Homo sapiens: one gene and its partners. The protein of the gene in region 1 purifies or fractionates together with the protein of each later gene. This does not show direct contact. Each region holds a gene or a part of one and is shown on either strand. Other genes may lie near its edges. The genes, in order: SP4, PTPRA and VRK3.

Region 1 (3,748 bases):
GTAGCAGCAGGCTGGCCAACCTGCCCAGTCCCTCCTCCGGCAGCCACGTTGTTTATCACTGGCAAAGCTAGAGTCACTCCTCCAATGTTAATTGGTAGGGTTGTTACAACTTGAGCCTGAGTACCAGGAAGAGTCTGTAACTGCAGTGGTATTGAAACACCAGGTCTAATTTGGACCGGAACTGTCTGATTTGCCAGGTTTTGAGCAAGAATATTCCCAGAAGCTGTCCTGTTAGCAGCTGTGAGTATAGCTTGATTATTACCTGCAGAAATGAGCTGAATTTGACCCTGCAAATCCTGTAGAGATGAACTACTAGTTGGATTGATTTGAATTTGTTGACCTTCCACTGTCTGAAGTTGTGGAATTACTTGGTACTGTACACTACCACTTGGATTTTGTACTTGTATGACTTGAAATTGACCAGGGGTGGAAGAATTACCTGATTTAGTTTTTGTAGGAGATGCACTCCCGTTATTACTGCTGGAAGAACTAGACGAACTAGAGGCTGGTTGAGAAACGTTATTCTCTTTTGAAGCAGGAGGAGTGGAGGCAACAAGTTGCCAAGCGTTTCCAGCAAGTTGCGTTGTTACCAGTTCTAGCTGTTGTGGTTGATTTTGAAGTTGCACCAATCCTTGACTTGGATCTATAATAATTTGTTGTTGTCCAGTTGCTTGATTTTCACCAGGAGTCCCTATTTTGCTGCAAGTAGCTGCCAGTAAAGCCAGAGGAGAGGGCTGAGAGTCCTACCCAAAATGGGACGGTAAAGGAGAGGGGGGGGGGAAAAAAAGTGGGCGGATTTAGTGGAGGCCAGTAGTTGCCAGGGGGTTACTTATTTTGACAGCTCTACATAACAATTTAGGAAGCAGCAGAAATCAAAAAGAAATACGAACAAAAGTAGATAAGAACTATATGAATAAGGAAGCAAGTCCTATAATATCAAGTTTAAATAAAAGGAAATTTCTTTACAACTTTGTAAAGTGTTATGTTCCTAAACTCAAAATGCCCTTGGGAACACACACACCGTTTTCTTATAGTCTGAATTCCTGATGTAATTTTAAACAGCGTTATACCCTCAAAGAGGTGAAAACTTGATGAATTTACAATTTAAGTTCCACACTCTCAGAAAGATGCTTTGAGTGGATAAACATTTTATTCTGTTACTTCTGGACATTCAAAGGGCATAACTCCCTCTCTCTCCTAATGTGTCGTGATGAATTTTTTTAATTTGTTTGCTTTTACCTGGGAGCCTGAGGTTTTGGGTTTTTTATTGTTATTCTCTGGCTCAGAGGTTTTCCCTCCTTCTGTAGCCATCGCCGCTGCCGCTGCCGCCTCCTCCTCCTCCTCCTTCTTCTGATCTGCAACAAACCCCCCCACCACACACACACGACAACAGGTTATTAGGATTATTATTATTCGTCTTCTTCCTCTCCTCTTCTCCCCCCTCCCCCCGAACATTAATCTCCATAAACCCGCGATCCACGCACACCGGCAGGGGGTGGGGGAGAAGGAGGGAAGGGAGGAGGGGGATATCACAAAACGTGGTTTGAAACCCGACCCATCGGCTCCAGAGCAACACCCAGAAGGAGGTTGTTCTCTCTCAGACATTAAGACAAAACACAACCCTCCTTCCCTCCCCGATTCCCTCCCGCCCTCTCCTCCTCCCCTTAAAGCATCTCAGCGGCCCCGGGGGAGGGGGGAGAACCGAGCAGGGTCTGGGGAGGGAGGGAGAGAGGGAGGCGGCGAAGGAGACTGAGGGGGGTGGAGAATACGTACCGCTCATCCCGCATTAACAGGACAAACCCTCAGACGGAGACACTGGGATAGAGGTGGGTGGGGGTGGGGGCGAGGCGGGAGGAGAGGCCGGTCCCGCCCGCCCGCGGTGGCTCGGAGGAGGCTGTAGCTGGCACAGGCTCTGCCTCTTTTTCCGCGAATGGCCGCCGCTGGGCTGTGGCGTAGCAGCTCCTCTCTCCGCCCGAGCCCGGCTGACTCGCCCTTGATTGACAGCGGCGGCGCGCGGCGCGGGCGGCGGCGCGGGTCGGGGGCGGGGCCAGGGCGGTGCGAGCCTGGCCGACTCCCCACCCCCCTCGGCCTCTCTCCGCCGGAGCCTCCGACTCTCCACCCCTTCCCCCAGCGGATTGGCCGCCGACCTGCCGGGGGCCGGGGCGCTGGGGCCGCCTCCTCTCCACCCCCTTTCTCGGGGTTATTCCTTTAGCAGCTCTTCTCCTCCTCCCTGGCTCCTCTGGCGCTCTTTCTCTCGGCGTTCTAGCTCAGGAGCGCTGCCGGTAGGCCCTCCATACAGCCAAACTTGTTGTCTCAGGATATCCCGCCCCCTACTCATTTCCCAGCGCCCTCCACTCAAAAACCCCCTCCAGCAATCCCTCCAATTGCCACTAAAGAAAAAAGTAGGGCCCTTGATCCAGGCAAGCGAGAGCGGCGGACGTGGGCGCGCGCGGACCACCAACAGGTCGGCGCGCTGGGTGAACTGCCCGCTGCCCCCGCGCAGGGAGCATGGCTTTCCTGAGGCGCATCCGGACCCGGGCGCCCTTTTTCCCTGGCTCTGTCTCCATTGGCTGAGCCCAGGGTGACGCGCGCTGAGTGGTGGGAGAAAGGGGGTGGGGCACTACCGCGAAGGCTGTCGGTACTCGTAGTTTCCGGCGGTCGCGGTGCCTTCTTCGAGGCACCGCCTCTCTCCCGCCCCCGACCGAGGCCTGGCTGCCGAGCGGAAAGCTGCCCGAGGGGGCGGTGGCGGCAGGGCGTGGCCGGGGCCGAGTGGGAGTTGAACTGAGCGAGGAGGAGGGGGAATGGGTGTTGTTTGCCTGGGCCTATCCGCCGCGCGGGGCTGCCCAAACCACCTCTGCCGCCGCCTCCTCGGCTCCAAGCCGCTCCCCGCGGGGCGAGCTCACACCCGGAGCGCTCGGCGATTGAGCGGGCGGCGGCGTGGGGAGGCGGGGTTTGCTGTCCTCGGGGTTTGAATGAACCCGGCTTCTTGAAGCAGCGCCCTCGCCTTGCCTTTCTTTGCTCACCTTCCCCTCAGGCCCCCTGCTTTGAGTCCGAGGCCTGTTTTCTCACGGAGAAGGATCTTCCATTTTTATTTGTTGTCTCTCTGGCTGGCAGCTGGTGCAGAGCAGTGACCCGCCTTCTAAGAAGGGTTGCATCGCGTTTTGCCTAAAAGCCTAAGTGGTTGGCGGAGTTCTAAGCCTTATCTGACAAGAGTCTCCGGGCGAAGAAAAGCCCAGCTCCATAAGGGTCAGCCCCGCTTACGGTGTAGCGTAAGCAAGCGTAAGGGCAAGTGGAATTAACATCTGGCTGCACAAAGCATCTTACTGTCAAATGCACTTGAGCAGTGTCCTGCCTCAGCTTTCCTACAAAGTCCTGAAGTCAGGATGATGCCATGGAACGTAATCAGCGCCTGATTAACTGTACCAAAGGTGGAAGTGACCCCACATGTAAATACTGGCCTTGGGAACAAGGCATGCTTACACCCCAGGCTCAAAGCCATTGTCTCACTTCTTACCTGGGCTTCACACTCAGCCTTGGGCATTTTTGTCTCCTGCCTGAGGCCTGACATGTTGCAATGGTGAGGAGGTCCCAGATGCTGAACTTGACTGGCATTTCCTTTGCTTGTTAAGGTAATTGCAAAATCAGCTGATGACAAAGCCATGCAGCAAGACAAAGCAATTCGAATAAAGAATTACATGGTATTGTCTACCCCATCTTATACAATGAGCCAGAGATCCCTGAACAACGT
Region 2 (3,748 bases), on another chromosome or scaffold:
TAAGAAGAATAGCGGCTTATGGCTAGCCAATATCATTTGTCCTCTCCCTCTCCTTGCATTGCTCCCACCTCAGGCCCTGGGCAGACAGAATCCCAGCTGGGCAAGGACATGTCTGTTCCTAGCTCATTAGGGAGAAAGCCTTTGGCTTTTACGTTATTTCCAGAAGCCACTAAGGTGCAACAAAAGGCAACGCCATGTTGTTAAGTGGGTGCAACAAGAGGCAATGCCATGATTCTTGTCTATACGCCAATCATTAACTAGTACCTGAGAAATGGAAGGGGTGGAGGGAATTGAGGGATGGGGCAATAAGGCTTTGGAGTGGCGGGAGGGCTCTTACATGGAATGATCTGTAAAACACGGTTCTTCTTCATGTTGGCTGGAAGGTTTCCAGTCCGCATCTTGTCATTCTGGATTTTGATTGATGTTAACTTCTGAATTGGGAAGGGGAGGGGAAACATTACTGATCCCAGTAACTGAACTTGACAAGATTATGCCTGTCCCTTGGCCTGCACCTCCAGGCCACTCTGGCTCCATACTGCTCTTCTCACCAGGGCCCTGACCTCTGTTCCCATATGTTCAGCTGGAACCCTGAAGCCAAGAGACTGTTTGGGAAATGCTACCTTCCAGGCTCCTGTGGACTCTCTTGAGATTCTCCTGGCTTGGAATTTTGTGATCCTGGAGCAAGGGATTCCAGCATCGTAGGAGGGAGTGTGTCCACTCTGCAGTTCCACCCCCAGAGGCTGCCTAAGGCTCTTCAAAAAAACTTATTCAGAATTGCATCCTCCCTTCCCGATTGAGGCTCCTTCTTGACATTTGCTACTCAAAGTGTAGCCCATACACCAGCAGCGTTGGCTTCACCTTATTAGAAATGCAGAATCTCAAGCCGGGCGTGGTGGCTCATGCCTGTAATCCCAGCACTTTGGGAGGCCAAGGTGGGCAATCAACTGAGGTTAGGAGTTTGAGACCCGCATGGCCAACATGGTGAAACCCTGTCTCTACTAAAAATTAGCCGGGGGTAGTGGCACGTGCCTGTAGACCCAGCTACTTAGGAGGCTGAGACAGAAGAATCCCTTGAACCCGGGAGGCAGAGGTTGCAGTGAGCTGAGATCGCGCCATTGCACCCCAGCCCGGGTGACAAGAGTGAAACTCCATCTCAAAAAAAAAGAAAAGAAAAAAAGAAATGCAGAATCTCAAGCTCTAACTCATACCTGCTGAATCAGAACCTAATATCTTTTTTTTTTTTTTTTTTGAGACAGAGTCTTGCTCTGTCACCCAGGCTGGAGTGCAGTGGCACAATCTCAGCTCACTGCAATCTCTGCCTCCTGGGTTCAAGTGATTCTCCTGCCTCAGCCTCCCAAGTAGCTGGGATTACAGGCATGTGCCACCATGCCTGGCTAATTTTGTATTTTTAATAGAGACAGAGTTTCTCCGTGTTGGTCAGGCTGGTCTTGAACTCCTGAGCTCAGGTGATCTGCCTGACTTGGCCTCCCAAAGTGCTGGGATTACAGGCATTAGCCACCGTGCCTGGCAGAACCCACATCTTGACAGGATCCCAAAGAAATCTGTGCACATGCTATATTTGAGAAGAACTTCTCTAAGTGGTCCTCCCCACCCCAACCCAGAATCTCCTGCTTCTGAGAAAGCACTTTTTTTTTTTTTTTTTTTGAGATGGAGTCTCGCTCTGTCGCCCAGGCTGGAGTGCAGTGGCATGATTTCGGCTCACTGCAACCTCTGCCTTCCGGGTTCAAGCAATTCTCTCGCCTCAGCCTCCTGAGTAGCTGGGACTACAGGCATGTGCCATCATGCCTGGCTACTTTTTGTATTTTTAGTAGAGACGGGGTTTCACCATATTGGCCAGGCTGGTCTGGAACTCCTGACCTCATGATCCACCTGTCTCAGCCTCCCAAAGTGCTGTGATTACAGGCGTGAGCCACTGTGCCCAGCCTGGGAGAGCACTTTTACTGATGACAGTGTGACATATGCCTTAGGTGTGTTGAGAACCATTGTCTAGTGGCATATAGGAGCTATCAGTGATCTAAGGTCCAGAGGCCAAATCTGGCCTGCTGCCTGCTGCCTGCAAATAAAGTTTTATAAAACAGCCACACTCATTATATTTACCTATTGGTTATGGCTGCCTTTGTGTTACAAAGACAGCACTAAGTAGCTGGATAGAAACCATGTGGGCTGCAAAGCCTAAAATATTTATTATCTGGCTCTTACAGAAAAAACTGCTCTTGCTGTGTATCATAATCACCTCGGAGGGCTAGGGGCCTTAAAATACTGTTGCCTGCTTCTCCCTACTCTAACACAACCAAAGTGATTCCAACGTGCAGGATGAGTTGAGAGTTACCAGAGTACGAGGAAAGGACCATCTCCTTAACCACTGGCATGCCTCACAAGGGGATTTACTGTTGGCAAATGCACAGTCAGGCATCCCATGTTCCCCAGATTACAAGGATCCTTCAATCTGAAGGAGGTTATCCAGCTCCAACTCACCTTAAACTCCTCCTCTAATCCATTGTTGCTGGTCCCTGGGATTTTGTTGTAAATTTTCTGCAGGTGGGTTTCTAGAGAGGTCACTTCCAGTTCTGTATCTCCATAGAGATAATGCTCCAGAAGGGCTTGGTATATGAAGACATACTGCATCTGAAACATGAATGACACAGAAGTTCTTGGTTACATACAACATAGTTCTCATGCCAGATCACCTGTTCCCACCCCCACTTCACTCCAGTCCATTTCTCCTTTGATCCTAGCAGGAATAAAAGGACTCCCTCTTATTATCCCAATTTAGTGAAGTGGGACTTGAAATGCAGGAGTCCCTGTGGGGGTGCTTTACTTGGGAAGAAGGGTCCAGGTCTATCTTGGGGGTGGTGGACGCCTGGAGAGAAGGACAAACTCAATTCCTGTTCATTCTGAGAGTGCAGATTTAATAGTCTGAAGGGGCTGTCAGAAACTGGAGACACCCAAAGCCCGTGATAGTCTGGTCCCTGCCTCCCTCCTGGTGCTATGCCCCAACTGCAGAGCCAATCTCACTGCTGCTCCCAGATGTGGCCGAGCTTCATCATGTCTCTGGGCACTGGCTCTTTCAGCTGCCTGTTCCCTAATCTTTGAAGTCCAGTAACCTGTCATCTGCCTTCCTGACTCTCCCAGGCATGAAACCACAACCTCCTCTGTGCTCGATTTCTTTGAATACATAATTTATAAGAGCCCTTCATCACATGAAAGGGGCTAGCCCCTCCACACCTGTGGATGTTTCTCGTCAGGTGGGACGAGAGACTGAGGAAAGAAAGAAGACACAGAGACAAAGTATAGAGAAAGAACAGTGGGCCAGGGGACCGGTGCTCAGCATACGGAGGACATGCGCCAGCACTCGTCTCTGAGTTCCCTCAGTATTTATTGATCACTATCTCTACTATCTCGGCTAAGGGGATGTGGCAGGACTATAGGGTAATGGTGGGCAGAGGGTCAGCAGAAAAACATGTGAGCAAAGGACTCTGTGTCATAAATAAGTTTAAGGAAAGGTGCTGTGCCTTGATGTGCACGTAGGCCAGATTTATGTCTGACTTTACACAAACATCTCAGTGCAGTAAAGAGCAGTATTGCCGCCAGCATATCTCACCTCCAGCCATAAGGCGGTTTTCTCCTATCTCAGTAAATAGAATGTACGATCGGGTTTTACACCAAGACATTCCATTCCCAGGGACGAGCAGGAGACAGATGCCTTCCTCTTATCTTAACTCCAAAG
Region 3 (3,748 bases), on another chromosome or scaffold:
GAGAGGATGGTCCGGCCAAGGATACAGCTGGGGCAAGGCTTGTGTGGAAGGGAGAGCATATGGCATTTGTTCATTAGTTCATTCATTCATCCCCATTAAATATTCATCAGGCACTTGCTGGGTGCCAGACGCTGTCCCCGGGGCTGGGTGCAGAGCAGGGAGCAGCATAAACATGGTTTCTGTGTCTTAGAGCTCACAGTCTAGTGGGAGGGGCCAATAGTGAATCAAACAGTTGCACAAACTATGACAAGTGCTCTGAATAGAAGCGGCCCCTGCTGTGATTGAGAGTAAGAGGGCCCAGTTTGCATCGCTGGAGGGATGGACGTACCAAGGGAGCGACATGCTGAGTCCTAAGGTCTTTATGTTCAGTATCTGCAGTATGGCACTGCAGTGCGGAAGAGATGGAGTTGGTCTGGAGAGGTCAGCGGTGACCACATCACACGGGGCCTCGCACAGCAGGCTGAGGGGCTGGGATCTGTCTTGAGGGCACTGGAGAGCCACAAGAGTGCTGGGATTAGGGGAGGGCGGGGTCAGCTCTGGGTACAGAAAGGCCCTCAGGGGCCATATGGGGAGGGACTGGAATGGGGAGAAGAATCTGAGTGAGGGTCCATGTGGGAGAGGACAAGGCTGAGGAGGGTCCCGGGCCCCGGGGGTGGAGAGTCTATAGGAGGAGAACGAGCAGAATTTGGTGGACAGTAGAGCCCTGGGGTCAAAGAGGGTTGGGGATATGATCAGAATGTAGCTGACACTCAGGCAGCAGACACAATCAAAGAATTGGCCGGGCGCAGCAGCTCATGCCAGTAATCCCAGCACTTTGGGAGGACGAGGCAGGTGGATCACTTGAGCTCAGGAGTTCAAGACCAGCCTGGGCAACATGGCAAAATGCCCTCTCTAATAAAAATACAAAAAATTAGCCGGGTGTGGTGGCACCCACCTGTAGTCCCAGCTACTTGTGAGGCTGAGGTGGGAGGATCACCTGAGCTTGGGAAATCAAGGCTACAGTGAGCAGTGATTGTACCACTGCACTCCAGCCTGGGCAACAGGAGTAAGACCCTGTCTCAAAAATATATATATACACACAGCAAAAAAAGAGTCTGGAGCTCATAGGGACAGCTGGAGCTGGAGATCAAGATATAAATTGCTTAACAAGATTTATTTCTGCTCTCTAGGACAGGTGAGAAGAGCTCTTTGATATCCACAGGTGCTGAGTCATTTTTGCAGAGAGACATTAACCCCTTTTCCCTCTGCTGAGTTTGTCATCAGCTAAGAGAGAAATACAGGAGTAGATAGGAAGCCACGCTTTAGCTCAATTGATGAGCTTCCTGAGAGCCTGATTAGAGGCGTGCTCAATGTGCTGTCACAGCGGGCTCCTCATGCTACCCCGGATTTAGTCAGGTTTAACCCCCAGTCACAGTGTCGGACAACCCCAGGCCTTAATAGTGGGGCTCCCTCCTGGTCTGCACCATAGCCTCTCTGTGTTAGTCGTACTGCTCATGCAGACACTGACTTGCTTCTTCCCCCAGCTGGATGCCCTGGAGTTCCTCCATGAGAATGAGTATGTTCATGGAAATGTGACAGCTGAAAATATCTTTGTGGATCCAGAGGACCAGAGTCAGGTAAGAGCCAGCTCCTGCCCACTCTGGAAGATCTCTGGGCTCAGGTTCCCATCTGTCTCCAAATCTCTATTTATTTCATAGTGCTTATTACAGACAAAGGATTGCTGTCCATCATATATAAAGAGCTCCTTCAAATAAATAAGATAAGCAACTTAGTAGGAAAATGGACAAAGGATAAGAAAAGCAATTCTTAAAAAAAGAAATCCACAGGCTAGCTAAATAATATGAAAAGATATTCAACCTCCTTAGTAACTATAGAGATGTAACTTAAAACAAGATACTATTTTCACCCTTTGAACAAAATTAAGCATGATAATAATATTCATTGCTGATAAGGATATAAGGAAGTAGGAATTCTTCATATACTGTTGGAAGCATGAATTGGGAAACCCTTTTGGAAGGCAATAACAGTCACAGTTTTAAATGCACCTGTTTTTTGTCTTTGATTTTGTTTTGAGATGGAGTTTCACTCTTGTTGCCCAGGCTGGAGTGCAATGGCACGATCTCGGCTCATCACAACCTCCACCTCCTGGGTTCAAGCGATTCTCTGTCAGCCTCCTGAGTAGCTGGGATTACAGGCATGCGCCACTACGCCTAGCTAATTTTGTATTTTTAGTAGAGATGGGGTTTCTCCATGTTGGTCAGGCTGGCCTCGAACTCCTGACCTCAGGTGATCCGCCCGCCTTTGCCTCCCAAGGTGCTGGGATTACAGGCCTGAGCCACCGTGCCCGGCCAAAATGCACCTGTTTTTTGATCCACAAGTTCCTGTCTTAGGAAGGTGTCCTACCTATATATTCATAGGATTGTTCAAAGATAAGTGTACAAGATGTTCCTGGCAACACTGATTGTAATAGTGAAATGGGAAACACCTTAAGCGGGATACTGATTAAATAGTATTTTAAAGTAACTTCTAATTGCTCTTACAATTACAAATGACAGAAACCCAACTTTACATGCCTTAAGCCAAAAACCAAAAGGGACTGTGTGCAATGTATTAGTCCACAGAATGGAGCAATCCAGGACTGCACTGTCTCGGGCACGGCAGGATCCAGGAGCTCAAACCCTGTCATTGGGAAGCCGGCTCTCCCATCTCTGGACTCCTCATGCTTCTGCACTGCTCGTTGTCAGGCAGACTTATTCCTCATGGTGACAAAATTGCCACCAGCAAATTAGGCTTAAATCCCCAAAGCTTAGCAGCCCTGGCAGAAACAGACCTGAACTGCGTGGACTGAGAACTGGGGAAAAGCAATCCCAGATGAAAATCCTGGAACTAAGCATTAGGAATCTTCAGAGAAACAGAACTGGCAGGGTGTGTGTGTGTGTGCGTGTGTGTGTGTGTGTAGAGATTTATTATAAGGAATTGGCTTATTGATAATGGAAGCTAAGCAGTCCTGAGATTCTTCAGTTTGCAATCTGGAGACCTAGGAGAGCCAATGATGTAAGTTCCAATCCAAAGGCCAGCAGGCCTGAGACCCAAGAAGAGGGGTTGTTTCAGTTCAAGTCCAAAGGCAGGAAAAGACCAATGTTCTAGCTCAAGCAGTCAGGGAGGAGGAGCTTCTGGTTACTTAGCTTTTTATTCTATTCACATCTTGAGTTGATTGAATGAGACCCACCCACATTAAGGAGAATAATCTGCCTTGCTCAGTCTACAAACCCCAATGTTCATCTCATCCAGAACACCCTCATAGACACTCCCAGAATAGGGTTTGGCCAAATGTCTGGGCACCCCATGGCCCAGTCAAGTTGCCACATAAAAATGACCATCATGGCCAGGCCCAGTGGCTCACACCTGTAATTCCAGCAGTTTAGGAGGCCAAAGTGGAAGGATCGGATCGCTTGAGCCCAGGAGTTCGAGACCAGCCTGGGAAACATAGGGAACCTCATCTGTACAAAATAAAAAATAATAACCTATCCAGGTGTAGTGGCATACACATGTGGTTCCAGCTACTCAGGAGGCTGAGGTAGAAGGATCACCTGAGCCCAGGAGATGGAGACTGCAGTGAGCCATGATCATACCACTGCACTCCAACCTGCGTGACCCAGTGAGACCCTGTCTCAAAACTTAAAAAAAAAAAATTATTTTTTTAATGAACACCACAAACTGTAAACAGAAAAACAGGGAGCCGGGGAAG

The links.
Region 2: the proteins of SP4 (region 1) and PTPRA purify together in Homo sapiens (affinity purification with mass spectrometry; 2 studies listed by BioGRID and IntAct, with this or other methods). This does not show direct contact.
Region 3: the proteins of SP4 (region 1) and VRK3 purify together in Homo sapiens (affinity purification with mass spectrometry; 2 studies listed by BioGRID and IntAct, with this or other methods). This does not show direct contact.

The regions. Positions count from the first base shown.
Region 1 is NC_000007.14:21,426,284-21,430,031, reverse strand, and holds the start of SP4 (transcription factor Sp4), read right to left. Parts: upstream 1,950-3,748; 5' UTR 1,781-1,949; coding exon 1,774-1,780; intron 1,356-1,773; coding exon 1,240-1,355; exon of another isoform or gene 1,129-1,239; intron 744-1,128; coding exon 1-743. UniProt on the Homo sapiens protein: Binds to GT and GC boxes promoters elements. Probable transcriptional activator.
Region 2 is NC_000020.11:3,023,370-3,027,117, reverse strand, and holds part of PTPRA (receptor-type tyrosine-protein phosphatase alpha isoform 1 precursor), read right to left. Parts: intron 2,647-3,748; coding exon 2,497-2,646; intron 432-2,496; coding exon 338-431; intron 1-337. UniProt on the Homo sapiens protein: Tyrosine protein phosphatase which is involved in integrin-mediated focal adhesion formation.
Region 3 is NC_000019.10:49,990,728-49,994,475, reverse strand, and holds part of VRK3 (serine/threonine-protein kinase VRK3), read left to right. Parts: intron 1-1,523; coding exon 1,524-1,616; intron 1,617-3,748. UniProt on the Homo sapiens protein: Plays a role in the regulation of the cell cycle by phosphorylating the nuclear envelope protein barrier-to-autointegration factor/BAF that is required for disassembly and reassembly, respectively, of the nuclear envelope during mitosis.